Homo sapiens: one gene and its partners. The protein of the gene in region 2 purifies or fractionates together with the protein of the main gene of each other region. This does not show direct contact. Each region holds a gene or a part of one and is shown on either strand. Other genes may lie near its edges.

Region 1 (3,500 bases), on a different chromosome or scaffold from region 2:
TTAGATTACTTTTAGTAGATTTATTAGAGCCGCACAGTTTAGAGTCAGTAGTCAATTAAAGTCCCTACTTAAACTTCAGACTAAGATTTTTTTTTATTTAATATTTTATTTTTTCTTTTTGCTTTCATGCAGACAGACATCTTGCAAGACTTTAAGATTCTTGGGCCATTTCTGTCAGGTTGTTCTGTGTTCTGTGCCTGCTTCCTCCCCATAGTAATTTCAAAATAGCTATCCTCACCTCTGTAAGGTTTCCGAAATCAAACTTGGGCTTCTGGCTAGCCTTTTCTAGGTCTTGATTTTTCAGTGCTTTCCAGAGGCAATTGTTTGGAACCTCTTGGCACAGTTTCTGTTTCTTCTTCCATGTACAGGCATAAAAGGTCTTTTGGTTGTTTTCTGGTAAAACTATCATAAAACAGTTCAAGCAAATGACTATTGGTAGTTTTGTCATTAACATGGGTGCCTTCTAGTCATTTTGTTTCCTGGCAAAACAGACCAAACAGAGGGAGCAGACAGTTTGTACATCTGTATGAGTGTTGATGTGCTTTTTATTTTAAGCCAGGGAACACATTTTATGTTATTTATGACATCCTTTCCATGAATTTGTCAGGTGATTTTTGAGCTGAACATTCTCAGTAATAGCTTTAGTTTACAAAATACAACCTAGTCTTTCTGCAGATTTTCTAGGCCCACTTCAAATGCATTGACTATCAGATGGCATCTTGGTTCCTTACGTCCTTTCTGTGACTGAATGTCCATAATTCCACATCATACTGATCTTTCTTAGAAAAGGCAACAGTTACTATCTTCTTTATTCCTTTTTTAATGCTTGCGAGGTAGTTCTTGTTGATCACAGCGATGCTATTCTCTCATTCTTCATGTCATATTTAGCAATTTTTTTCTAGTTTGTCATTTGATAATCTTGATTGGTGTATTTTGATGTACAGAAATTTAAAATTTATGTAGTTAAATCTTTCTTTAATTTCTATTGCTTTTGTATTTATAGCTCTTGCCTAGATAGTCTTAACTGTAGTATAGACTTTAACAGTGTTTTCTTTCTTTTCTTTTTTTTTTTTCAGTTGCAACTACTGGCCCTTCAGTATATTATAGTCAGTCACCAGCATATAATTCCCAGTATCTTCTCAGACCAGCAGCTAATGTTACTCCCACAAAGGTAACAAAGGAATAATTTATACATTTATAATTATTTTCTTTTTAAATTGTTTAGGGTTCCTTCAAATAAATTCAAGAGAGCAGTTCACTATTAAAACTTTTATGTCCCTTAAAATGTAGATATTTTAAATTTATCTCCAAATACAGAAATTATCCTTCTCAGTCACCTTATTTTTGTGTTAATAAGTGTGAATATTTAGAATATTTTAAAAATGGGAGTGGTGGTGGTGGATCCTTCATCGTTCTGTTTTAACAGAAATAGAACTGTAATGCCCTTGCTGACCCACTATGTGGTAAGTACTTTCAGGCCTGATACAGCTATATATATAACAATTGATTGAAGACTCAATATTACAGTGGTAGTTGAATGTGACAGCTTTGAGGACAGAGTGTTGGGGTGCATTTAGACCCTTGCTCTTCTGCTTATTTTGACCACAGGCAAGTTTCTTAACCTCTCAGTGCATCAGTTGCCTTATATGTAAAATGAGGATAATAATAATACCTTAATTCATAGGGTTTTTGAGGATATTAAAATGAGATAATAATGTAAAGTGCTTAGAACAGTGCCCAGCTGGCACATTAATGAATGCTCAATAAATGTTATCATCATCATCATCATCATTATTGTTAACATCATTTGATAAATTGTTTAGGAATGAAGAAGGTATTTATTTCATGACTATTTTGGGCATGTGGATCAAGAAAATTCACCTTCATTTATGTTTCAGGGTTCTTCTAATACAGAATTTAAGTCAACCAAAGAAGGATTTTCCATCCCTGTGTCTGCTGATGGATTTAAATTTGGCATTTCGGAACCAGGAAATCAAGAAAAGAAAAGGGAAAAGCCTCTTGAAAATGATACTGGCTTACAGGCTCAGGATATTAGGGGCCGGAAGAAGGGCCGTGGTGTGATTTTTGGCCAAACAAGTAGCACTTTTACATTTGCAGATGTTGCAAAATCAACTTCAGGAGAAGGATTTCAGTTTGGCAAAAAAGACCTCAATTTCAAGGGATTTTCAGGTGCTGGAGAAAAATTATTCTCATCACGATACGGTAAAATGGCCAATAAAGCAAACACTTCCGGTGACTTTGAGAAAGATGATGATGCCTATAAGACTGAGGACAGCGATGACATCCATTTTGAACCAGTAGTTCAAATGCCTGAAAAAGTAGAACTTGTAACAGGAGAAGAAGGTGAAAAAGTTCTGTATTCACAGGGGGTAAAACTATTTAGATTTGATGCTGAGGTAAGGCAGTGGAAAGAAAGGGGCTTGGGGAACTTAAAAATTCTCAAAAACGAGGTCAATGGCAAACTAAGAATGCTGATGCGAAGAGAACAAGTACTAAAAGTGTGTGCTAATCATTGGATAACGACTACAATGAACCTGAAGCCCCTCTCTGGATCAGATAGAGCATGGATGTGGTCAGCCAGTGATTTCTCTGATGGTGATGCCAAACTAGAGCGGTTGGCAGCAAAATTTAAAACACCAGAGCTGGCTGAAGAATTCAAGCAGAAATTTGAGGAATGCCAGCGGCTTCTGTTAGACATACCACTTCAAACTCCCCATAAACTTGTAGATACTGGCAGAGCTGCCAAGTTAATACAGAGAGCTGAAGAAATGAAGAGTGGACTGAAAGATTTCAAAACATTTTTGACAAATGATCAAACAAAAGTCACTGAGGAAGAAAATAAGGGTTCAGGTACAGGTGTGGCCGGTGCCTCAGACACAACAATAAAACCCAATGCTGAAAACACTGGGCCCACATTAGAATGGGATAACTATGACTTAAGGGAAGATGCTTTGGATGATAGTGTCAGTAGTAGCTCAGTACATGCTTCTCCATTGGCAAGTAGCCCTGTGAGAAAAAATCTTTTCCGCTTTGATGAGTCAACAACAGGATCTAACTTCAGTTTTAAATCTGCTTTGAGTCTATCTAAGTCTCCTGCCAAGTTGAATCAGAGTGGGACTTCAGTTGGCACTGATGAAGAATCTGTTGTTACTCAAGAAGAAGAGAGAGATGGACAGTACTTTGAACCTGTTGTTCCTTTACCTGATCTAGTTGAAGTATCCAGTGGTGAGGAAAATGAACAAGTTGTTTTTAGTCACAGGGCAGAAATCTACAGATATGATAAAGATGTTGGTCAATGGAAAGAAAGGGGCATTGGTGATATAAAGATTTTACAGAATTATGATAATAAGCAAGTTCGTATAGTGATGAGAAGGGACCAAGTATTAAAACTTTGTGCCAATCACAGAATAACTCCAGACATGAGTTTGCAAAATATGAAAGGGACAGAAAGAGTATGGGTGTGGACTGCATGTGATTTT
Region 2 (4,271 bases):
AGAACTGGAGTCCATTCATGACCAGGAAGAAGTACTTTCTCCCTGGGGATAACAGCATTTAAAATGTCTATTAGCAGTGATGTTTGAACTAGTCTTTTTGAGAAGTGTGAAGAGAACAGGAAAAGTCTGTCCCTAAATAGCAGGGCAGTGCTCGCTTCGACAGCACATGTATTAACATTGGAACGATACAGAGAAGATTAGCATGGGCCCTGCGCAAAGACCACATGCAAATTTGTGACATGTTCCATATATTTTTTAAATACTTTGGGCGGGCGGGGCGCAGTGGCTCACACCTGTAATTCCAATGCTTTGGGAGGCTGAAGTGGGCAGATCACGAGGTCAGGAGTTGGAGACTAGCCTAGCCAACACAGTGAAACCCTGTCTCTACTAAAAATACAAAAAAAAAATTAGATGGGTGTGGTGGCAGGTACCTGTAGTCCCAGCTACTCAGGAGGCTGAGGCAGGAGAATCGCTTGAAACTGGGAGGTAGAGGTTGCAATGAGCCAAGATCACGCCACTGCACTCCAGCCTGGGTGTCAGAGCGAGACTCCATCTAAAAAAAAAAAAAAAAAATTATAGCGGAGCATGGTGGCTCATGTCTGTAATCCCACACTTTGGGAGGCTAAGGCGGGTGGACCATTTGAGGTCGGGAGTTTGAGACCAACTTGGCCAACATGGTGAAACCCGTCTCTACTAAAAATACAAAAATTAGCCGGACATTGTGGCCAGCGCCTGTAGTCCCAGCTACTGGGGAGGCTGAGGCAGGAGAATCGGTTGAACCCCGGGAGGTGGAGGTTGCAATGAGCTGAGATCGCGCCACTGAACTCCAGCCTCCATGACAGAGAGAGACTCTGTCTCAAAAAAAATAAAAAGTATTAAAGAAAATAATAAATAAATAAACGGGGGAGGGGGATACCACCCTCTGTCCTGCCCCAACTCTCTACCTTCCTCTCCTCCCTCACCTTCTACCCTGACCCCGAGGCCCACCGCACCTAGCTTTCTTTTGTTGATCTACCTGTATATTGCCTTTCCCCCGACCCCGACGCCCCATAGAATATGAGACCCTCCAGGTCAGGGTCTGGATCTCAGCCCTCTTCGACCACAGTCTCTCAAACCCCAGCCAATTGTCAAATCCAGGAAGCTACATGAAGAATCAAGAACAAGTGCACAGGGCTGTGTGACCCCACGCTTAGTCTCAGGGAGAGGGAAGTTGGACCTCTCCCAAGAATCCGTGGGCCGACCCATTGTTAAGTTACAGGCTAGCATGAATCCATCCACTGGAGCTCTGAAGACGGGGGGCACATTGGGCATGTAACTAGAATCCTGAACAGGAGGAGTCCACTGAGAACCCTAGGGGAATGACCTGGGCCAGCATCTCTCCCTACCCTGTGCCCCCCACTCACTGGGGCCCAGTGGTTGGGTCCTTTGTGAGGCAGGCTGAGGGGACAGTGGATCCTGAGGGTCTGTGGTCACAGTAGGTAGGAAGTCTCAGAGGAAGGAGCCCCTCCCTGGGAGCCAGACCCCCACACCATGGCGAGCGTGGTGGTGAAGACGATCTGGCAGTCCAAAGAGATCCATGAGGCCGGGGACACCCCCACGGGGGTGGAGAGCTGCTCCCAGCTAGTCCCAGAGGCTCCCCGGAGGGTGACCAGCCGGGCCAAGGGGATCCCGAAGAAAAAGAAGGCCGTGTCGTTCCACGGGTGGGTTTGTTGCACACTGTCAGGGATGGTTCTAATGCCCAGCACTACCTCCAACAGAGCAGGAGTCCGACTGTGGGTGCTAGAGGAAGGGGAGGGGGAAAAGCCAGCAGGTCGGGGGCAGGAAAGAGGGCAGCAGTGAAGAGACATCAAGTCACAGGGAGGTAGAGAGGAAGAAGGTAATGGGGATGGATGGAGGGAGGAAGAAGGTAATGGGGATGGATGGAGAGAGGAAAAAGCCAGTGGGGAGGGAAGAAGGAGAAGGGAGGCTAGTGAATGAAGAAGAAAGTAGGTGGCAGAGAAGGGAGGAGAAAGTAGGCAGCGGGGAAGGAGAAGAAGAAAGTAGACAGTGGTGGTCGGGCACGGTGGCTCACGCCTGTAATCCCAGCACTTTGGGAGGCCGAGGCAGGTGGATCATGAGGTCAGGAGTTCAAAACCAGCTTGGCCAACATGGTGAAAAGCCATCTCTACTAAAAATACTAAAATTAGCTGGGCGTGATGGCACATGCCTATAACCCCAGCTACTCAGGAGGCTGAGGCAGGAGAATTGCTTGAACTGGGACCCGCAGTCGGAGGTTGCAGTGAGCTGAGATCGCGCCACTGCACTCCAGCCTGGGCAACAGAGTGAGACTCTGTCTCAAAAAAAAAAAAAAAAGAAAGAAAGAAAAAAGAAAGAAAGTAGGCAGCACAGGGAAGGAGAATAAAGTAGGCAGCGGGGACAGAGAAGGGAGAAACTTATATACAGTGAGGGTGGAGTCACAGGGGGTGAGGTATGGAGAAAGGAAGGCAGGAGGGCCCAGACACCCTGGGGCTGCTTCTCCACTTTTCTGCCTGTTTCTTCTCTGCAGGGTGGAGCCCCAGATGTCCCATCAGCCCATGCACTGGTGCCTGAACCTCAAACGGTCCTCGGCCTGCACCAACGTGTCACTGCTCAACCTGGCCGCCATGGAGCCCACTGACTCCACGGGGACAGACTCCACAGTGGAAGACCTCAGCGGCCAACTCACACTGGCTGGGCCCCCTGCCTCCCCTACCCTACCCTGGGATCCGGATGACGCAGACATCACGGAAATCCTGGTGAGGGCCCTCCACACCACCCGCTGGGGAGGACCGAGGTCCTCCACAAGGTGGTAGCAAATACTTAGGACGGGGGTGGGGTGTTTTTGACTTGGAGTTAGAATGTTCTGGTCATTCGAGACCCAGAGGAACTAACTGGGAACTGCCTCCTCCTTCTCTGACAGCCAGCCATGAATCTGGGAGTTGGTCTTTTTTTTTTCTTCCTTTAGAGACAGTCTCACTGTGTTGCCCAAGATGGTCTCAAACTCCTGGGCTCAAGTGATCCTCCCACCTCGGCCTCCCACAGTGCTGGGATTACAGGCGAGAGCCCCCGTGCCTGGCCTGGGTGGTCTTCAGTTCACACAGTCACTCCCAAATGTCCCCAGTGAGGCTGGGCTCAGGAAACAGGCCAGATCCCTGTGCTTGGGGAGCTCCCAGTCTGGTGGGGGCAAAAGACACAGACTAGGGTGAGAAATTCCCTAACGGAGGAGATCCCAGAGAAAGGCCCCTCAAGCCAGGCTGGGGGGTACCAGGGAAAGCTTCCTGGAGGAGGATGTCTTGCAACTGGACCTTAGTGAGTGAGTAGGAGTTCTCTGAGGGGAGTCAGCTAAGAATCTGGGGCAAAACTGAGAGATGAGCAAGATTTAGGGGGACTTAGGGAATTTCTGGCAAAAGTATAGAGGGTTACAAATGGGTCCTTTAACTCACTGCACCTCTGATCCTCACCCCCCACCTGGCTTCCCCTGGGCCAGGCCTAAAACAGGCTCTACCAGATACTGAGAACCACATTAACAATAGCCATGATCTTAATGATGCTGATAAGATTCACTAGCACTTTCTATGTTCAGGGAGCCCTGGTTTCCTCATCTGTAAAACGGAGATGCATACATTCGTTCCTTTATTTTTAAATTTTATTTATTTATTTATTTATTGAGACAGAGTTTCGCTCTTGTTGCCCAGGCTGGAGTGCAATGGCGTGATCTTGGCTCACAGCAACCTCTGCTTCCCGGCCGGGTTCAAGCCATTCTCCTGCCTCAGCCTCCCGAGTAGCTGGGACTACAGGCATGTGCCACCACACCCAGCTAATTTTGTATTTTTAGTAGAAACAGGGTTTCTCCATGTTGGTCAGGCTGGTCTCGAACTCCGGACCTCAGGTGATCTGCCCACCTCGGCCTCCCAAAGTGCTGAGATTACAGGCGTGAGCCACCACGCCCAGCTTTTGTTTATTTATTTTTAAGGCAGGGTCTTGCTCTGTCTCCCAGGCTGGAGTGCAGTGGCACAATCACAACTCACTGCAGCCTCGAACTCCTGGGTTCAAAGGATCCTCCCATCTCAGCCTTCTGAGTAGCTGGGACCACAGGCACACACCTGGCTGATTAAAAAAAAATTTTTTGTAGGCCAGGCGCAGTGACCTATAATCTCAGCACTTTGGGAGGCCGAGGCGGGTGGATCATGAGGTCAGGAGTTCGAGACCAGTCTGGCCAATATGGTGAAACCCCGTCTCTACTAAAAATACAA
Region 3 (3,500 bases), on a different chromosome or scaffold from region 2:
AGCACTTTAGATGTTGAAATATATATTTACTCCACAATAAAAGGTTATTCTTTTGAAGTTTCTTTCATAAATGTATATAAAATCCCTTTGTATCAAATTTGCCACTAAATTCACTAGAATGAAGAATAAGCTTAATTTTAAAGAATCTTGTTAAAATGATTAAAGATTCTGGGACCAGATCTTTACACATAAATTCAATTTAGCAAAGCCCTTCTATGCTTTCTATTGCATACTCTGAAAACATTGTAATGTATCTGTAAAAAGTAAGTAGTACATCCAAATATTTACACAAATGTTAAAGTTAGCAACTGAACTCTCCGGAAAAAGCCTCAAGAACTTTCTTTTAAAAAAGCTATTGGAAACACTGAATGTATTTCAAGTATGTTTATACAAGAAATGTTTCCTAAGAGACTGTCATTTCCCTACTCCCATTATTTGTTAAAACAGTACCCTGCACTGGTTTAAAAAATGGAATGAAGACCAAAATAATTCTCAGTTTTGAGGCACTAGAGATATCAAAAATTTCAAGATATTATTTTGCTTGAGAAATTAACTTCTGAAGACACACTTTGGCTTACGACTTTGAAAGCAATGTACACTTTCTCTAAGAAGACATGTTTTACTACTGATTGATTGATTGAGACAGAGTCTCGCTCTGTCGCCCAGGCTGGAGTGCAATGGTGAGATCTTGGCTCACTGCAACCTCCACCTCCTGGGTTCAAGCAATTCTCCTGCCTCAGCCTCCTGAGTAGCTGGGACTACAGGTGTGCACCACCATGCCTGGCTATTTTTGTATTTTTGGTAGAGACGGGGTCTCGCCATATTGACCAGGCTGGTCTTCAACTCCTGACTTCAAGTGATTCACCAGCATCAGCCTCCCAAAGCTGGGATTACAGGCGTGAGCCACTGCACCCGGCCATTTATTTTATTTTATTTTTTGAGATGTACTCTTGCTCTGTTGCCCAGGCTGGAGTGCAGTGGTGTGACCTTGGCTCACTGCAACCTCTGCCTCCCAGGTTCAGGCAATTCTTCTGCCCCAGCCTCCCAAGTAGTTGGGATTACAGGCACCCACCACCACGCCTGGCTAATTATTGTATTTTTAGTAGAGGCAATGTTTCACCATGTGGCCAGGCTAGTCTCAAACTCCTTGCCTCAAGTGATCCGCCCACCTCAGCCTCCCAAACTGTTGGGATTACAGGCGTGAGCCAAAACTCCTGGCCTAGGAAGCATGTTTTATATGAAAATATAGGCAAGTAGGGGTGTAAGGAAATATTCCTGCTCATTTCAAATACAAAAATTGATTTCATGAGCTCCTTATTTATATTCTGATTCAATCACACATTCCAACCACAGCAGTTCTGTGATGGAAGATGAGTTGATGAGGCACTTTCCAGGCTGATAATAAAAACCACGACTCTATTGCAATACTGGCAAAAACAATCATTCCTTGTGTCTAGTTTCATATTTGTAACTAATTCTTTAACTACTTGCTTATCAAAAGTGTCAGTGTTTGAAATTATTTCAAAACACACTTAAATGGATTTTTATAGGGAAGCTGTATATAGACTCATTTTGCTGGAGGTGAAAACATATGTCGGGTGAGGTGTAGGCTGCAGAATGATGCTAGAGGTGGGAGAGGAGCCAAATTTTGGAAGGGCCTTGAGTGCCATGCCATTTATATTGTCTGAATCTGTTGAAATTTGGAGAACAAGAGTATGGGAAGTGAGAAACACATATATTCAGGATTTGAAATATTTTATTTAATGACTTTTTTTTTTGAGACAAAGAGTCTCGCTCTGTCACACAGGCTGGAGGGCAGTGGTGCAATCTCGGCTCACTGGAACCTCTGCTTCCTGGGTTTAAGTGACTCTCCTGCCTCAGACTCCCGCATAGCTGGGACTACAGGCACGCATCACCACACCTGGCTGATTTTTGTATTTTTAGTAGAGTCGGGGTTTCAACACGTTGGCCAGGCTGGTCTTGAACTCCTGACCTCAAGTGATCCACCTGCCTTGACCTCCCAAAGTGTTGGGGTTACAGGCATGAGCCACTGTGCCCGGCCTATTTAATGACTTCTGAAAAGAGTAAGAACTGATTCCCTTCAGGATTGGGAGTAATTTATTATACTTAGTTCAAGTCATGACTAATAATCCTAACGGCTTTGGATGGCCTAAATAATTCTCTTCTTTGGAAAGGACCCATTCAGACCATCTACATTATTGCTGCAAATGAAATAAAACATTACTAAGTAAAATATTTGGGAAAAAATGCACACTATTCCCATGCATCTTGATAATAAACTCTTTCATTTATACTCTCTAATACCCTAAATTTATCCTAAGCTTACACAATATACCTTTTAAAAAATATTATTTAATGTAACTTTGCAACTGGATATATTTTCTATCATATGCCTTTTCTGATAAAGATGCTTGAAGATCTATTCAGGAAATAAAGGTTGTTCTGATTCACAAAGAAAATAATTACCTGGATGACTGTCTGGCCACTTGGCAAATCCCCCTACAAGGCGATCTTGAGTTGATAAGATGTAATTTCTATTTTTCTCAAAGTTAGTGTATTGGAAAATTTTTAGAAGCTGAAATGACATGACAAATAAAAATTTACTGACATAAAACTCATATCAACCTTTGGCTCAAATTTCAGATACGTGTCATTTAGATATGCTTTTCTTTAGCTAAGGTGCTCAGACCAAGTCTCTGGGGCCTTGAGCACTTTTGAAATGAGTAAATCACATTAACTTTTTAATTTTCTTATCAAATCTACTCTCCTTTTCTCGACTCTCTATTTCCTTCTTCTGAACCAGGCCAACTGAACCCTTTAAATCACATTAAGCTAAATTCAAAAGACAACTCGAATCCACTCAACATAATCAGTCATTTTAAAAAGTACAATTTTATCTACCCATATTTTAACTCTTATGATAAGCTCTTGAGCTATTAGTTATAAACTAGTAGTAACTGGAATTAAAAATATTTTTTAAAAAAAGAGCAAACAAAAATTACTAACCAGATGCTACAGACAGTTTTGAAAATAGTAAAAAAGTATAGCTCTTTAATTAGGAAAGAAAAAGGTAAGACAAAAATGATTGCAACATAAAAAACTATATAGTTTTTAATGATTTAGGACATGTACTTGGCTTTTCTCTCAAGACCCCATAAAAGTAAAATACAAATAAATAAATAATACTGTGAAGTTCAAGATGAGGTGCACAGTAGGTAAGAGGGTTCAAGACATTTCTGATGATACAAAGCAATTTAATATATGTTAATGAACCAGAGAGAGCCACAGCTTTTAGTGACTAATGAAGAAGCATTATTTCTCAAAAAGAAAAGCTAAACTCATAAGAAAGTTATGGTACAAACAGGAAACAAATTTATTCATTTACATTGATTTAATTAATAAAATATAAGGAAAAAGACTTTTTTGAATCTTGATGTTAGGAATATTTTCCATCAGTGGCACACTGGTCATTACATAAA
Region 4 (3,500 bases), on a different chromosome or scaffold from region 2:
ATAAGCAAAGGAATTATGGAGCCACCAGAAGCTGAAAGAGGGAAGGCAGCATTCTCCCTTAGTGCCTCCAGAGGAAATGTGGCCCTGCCTTGATTCAGACTTCCAGAACTGTGAGAGAATTAATTTAGATTGTTTTACGCCATCAAATGTGACAATTTGTTACAGCAGCCCTAGGAAACTATTAATAATATATACTTCATGTTGTTTTGGTGCTATTGAAAAGATAATGGCCAAGAATTTTCAAAAAATAATGAAAGGCATCAAACCATAGTTCCAAGAAGCTCAGAGAAACAGCAAACAAGCTGGAGAAAAACAAAACAAAACAAAATCCTAGATGAGTTATATTCAAACTTCTGAAAACCAAGGATTAAGAAAGAAATCTTGAAGGTAGCCAGAGAAAAAAAGACATATATATGTGGATCAAATGTAAGAATTATGAAGAATTCTCGTGAAACTATACAAACTGAAAGAGTAACATCTTTAAAGTTTGAAAGAAAAACTGCCAACCCAAAGTTCTGTACTTAGCAAAAATATTTTAGCAATGATGGGGAAATAAGACCTTTTTTTCCCCTCCAGAAAAACCAAAGCTGACAATTTTTTACCAGCAAATTTGTATTATAAGAAATATCTAATTTCTCTCTCTTCTCCTTCTAGGATTCCAATTGTCCATGTGTTAGAGACAGTATTGTCTTGTAGCTTATGGAAGCTCTGTTCTGTTTTATCCCTCTGTGTTTCAGTTTGAGGAATTGATCTATCTTTAAGATCACTAATTTATTTTCCCATTGAGCCCATTATAGCCATACTTCTCTGTTACTGGGTTTCTTATTTCTGTTGTTTCCATTTGACTCTTTCTTATAATTTCTGCCTTTCTGCTGAAATTCTCCATTTGATCATGTGTGTTATTCAGTAGAGCCTTTACCATATTAATCATAGTTATTTTAAATTTTGTATCTCATAGTTTCAACATCTAGGTCATCTGAGTCTGCTTCTACTGACTGCTTTGTCTCTTGACAGTGGGGTTTTTTTTTCTCCCTGCCTTTTTGTGTCTCATAATGTTTTATTAAATGCCAGGCATCATGCTTAGGACAGTAAAGACTGAGGTAAATAGTCTTATCAGGAGTTGAGCTTAGTTTAGTGTTACCTAACGTACCTAGGATGAGGTCTGGTTGATGGAGGATTTTCTCAGTCATTTTCCTCACTCTCACCTTTCAGCCAGCCCTGTGGGCATGCCCCTCAGAGGGGCATGCTTTTTTCCATGTTCTTGGCCCTCCTCCCTAGATAGGCTGCTGTTGCTTATTGCTTGGTGCTTGATATTTTTTTTTTTTTTTTTTTTGCTGAGGGTTGGGGTGGGCCCTGTTGTCTTGACCCAGCTTCAGTCTTAAGCAGACTCTGTCTCCCTGGGTCTCAAAAGTGAGACATTCTTAGCGGTCCTGCTCCTTCCTCATTCAAAGGAGACCTTGATAATCTCAGCTCAGGATAGTTTCCTGCCTCTCCCTCAAGGGAAGAGGTGTTTTTATATTTGCTTTTCCCTAGTAGTTTCAGGATGCTCTTCTACAGGGGAGAGGTCCTGGCAGGGCTTCATACCTTTCCTTACTCACTCTCCTCTCCTAGGCCTGCACCTCCAAGAACGGTTTTCTTCCATCTACTGTTCTGCCCCCATTTTTTTTTGTCATGAAAGCCCAGTGGAGGTCTGTGGAGGAGAACCTGTGCATGGGTGCAAGCTCTACTTGTGTCTGTGGCACCTGGGGGTTCTGCACTCTTACCCTAGTCTGCGCTTGGTCTCCAGCAGTTTGTTAAAACTGTAACTTACCCACTCGTATGGTATTTGGCGTCTCTTCTCCTCATGCTTTGCCATAGGTGACCCACAGCTGATGCTCACTTTCTATTTTCCTTGGAAGTGTCTGTCTTTCCTTAGATTTCAGGCTACTGGTTGCTCTGTGACTTCAGCTCTCTGATTTAAGAGAAGTTATGATTCTTTTAGATTGTCAGTCTTTTTCTTGTTAGGAAGGAATTAACACTTTCCCCAGCTTTATATATCCTAGGCAGCAGCTCCTTATCCATACTTGTATCTTGATGGAAGAGGGAGATCACGGTCAATTCAGAGACCTCTCAAGAAGTCAACTCCAGATGGGTTGATTTCTTGTCACAAGGAAGATCTACAAGCTGTTTCTTTTGTTTTTAATGAAATGTTATGGTTTGGTTCCTCATGTGTCTGGGTAGCTGAGTATCAGCCACAGACATTTAGGCAATTCCTACTGTGTGTGAAGTGATGAGCTCCTGGTGGTGTATGAAAAGCAGGCAGCAGAGGAAACAGGAACTGAGGTGGGCAACACATTAACCAACTGTGAGAGGCCAGAGTCCCACCCCAGGGTGGCATGAGAGGAGACACCTGCAGACCCCAAGTGATATTTCCCAAAGTTAGAGCCATCTCTTGAGAGTCACCTTTTTTTGTTTTGGTATTAAGATGTTTATATTTGGCAAAAGTGAAATGTTGTTGAATTGGTGTAGGCCTATACGAGTATATGTGTGGATTAATCTTTGTTGTTATTTTAGTGAGCATTACTTTTTCTTTTGAGACGGAGTCTTGCTCTGTTGCCCAGGCTGGAGTGCAGTGGTGTGATCTCAGCTCATTGCAACCTCCACCTCCTGGGTTCAAGTGATTCTCCTGCCTCAGCCTCCCGAGTAGCTGGGATTACAGGTGCCTACCACCATGCCTGGCTGATTTTTGTATTTTTAGTAGAGATAGGGTTTCACCATATTGGCCAGGCTTGTCTTGAACTCCTGTCCTCAAGTGATCCACCTGCCTTGGCCTCCCAAAGTGGTTGGGTTACAGGTGTAAGTCACCGTGTCTGGCCTCTTTGTGTTATTTTATTCATGTTATACTTAACTGAGAACCACCAGGCAAAACCCCTAGGACTCTTTGATGTTGAACAGACAAAATGCTGATGTGACTTTTGCATTTAAATGCTGCTTGGGTTATTCTGCCACTGTCATTACTCATGGCTCTGGTACGACTGTCTCTTCCCACTCTTGTGTGTCATTTTCTTATCTCTGCTTTCTTGCTTATTTGCCCAGCTCTCAGGGAAATGCCACAGCTCCAGAGTGCTGGCATGCAGGTGAGTGGCTACAGAGCTGTGAGGGGTGGGGCTGCTGGCCCTTTGCTGCAGTGCAGACATTGGGGAGGATTCATTACACAGGAATTTTACCTCGGTGGGCCCTGCTCTTTGAGGTGTTGAGTGTTTGTGGAGGGCCTGCTCTGAGTTCAGCTCTGTGCTGGGCAATCATTCCAGGGCAGCTGGGTTGGGGAAGTGACGCAAAAAGCATTAGACCTAGGATTCAGAGGCCTCCATGGGGACGTTGGAGAGGAACTGTGCACATGGAAGCCCAGCTGCAGTCAATGTCACCTGCCAGAGGCTGTCTCATGTCCGGGAAGAGCCTGCACTTTGGGTTCAGATCCCAATTCTGTTATTTGCTGGGTAACTTAGAACAAGTTACTTAAC

The links. The genes of interacting proteins can lie anywhere in the genome.
Region 1: the proteins of TSKS (region 2) and RGPD8 purify together in Homo sapiens (affinity purification with mass spectrometry; 2 studies listed by BioGRID and IntAct, with this or other methods). This does not show direct contact.
Region 3: the proteins of TSKS (region 2) and PGGT1B purify together in Homo sapiens (affinity purification with mass spectrometry; 2 studies listed by BioGRID and IntAct, with this or other methods). This does not show direct contact.
Region 4: the proteins of TSKS (region 2) and POC1A purify together in Homo sapiens (affinity purification with mass spectrometry; 2 studies listed by BioGRID and IntAct, with this or other methods). This does not show direct contact.

What each region holds. Positions count from the first base shown.
Region 1 is NC_000002.12:112,388,646-112,392,145, reverse strand, and holds part of RGPD8 (RANBP2-like and GRIP domain-containing protein 8), read left to right. Parts: intron 1-1,076; coding exon 1,077-1,171; intron 1,172-1,898; coding exon 1,899-3,500.
Region 2 is NC_000019.10:49,760,507-49,764,777, reverse strand, and holds the start of TSKS (testis-specific serine kinase substrate), read left to right. Parts: upstream 1-1,471; 5' UTR 1,472-1,530; coding exon 1,531-1,700; intron 1,701-2,545; coding exon 2,546-2,774; intron 2,775-4,271. UniProt on the Homo sapiens protein: May play a role in testicular physiology, most probably in the process of spermatogenesis or spermatid development.
Region 3 is NC_000005.10:115,214,378-115,217,877, forward strand, and holds part of PGGT1B (geranylgeranyl transferase type-1 subunit beta), read right to left. Parts: intron 2,597-3,500; coding exon 2,488-2,596; intron 1-2,487. UniProt on the Homo sapiens protein: Catalyzes the transfer of a geranyl-geranyl moiety from geranyl-geranyl pyrophosphate to a cysteine at the fourth position from the C-terminus of proteins having the C-terminal sequence Cys-aliphatic-aliphatic-X.
Region 4 is NC_000003.12:52,098,924-52,102,423, reverse strand, and holds part of POC1A (POC1 centriolar protein homolog A), read left to right. Parts: intron 1-3,500.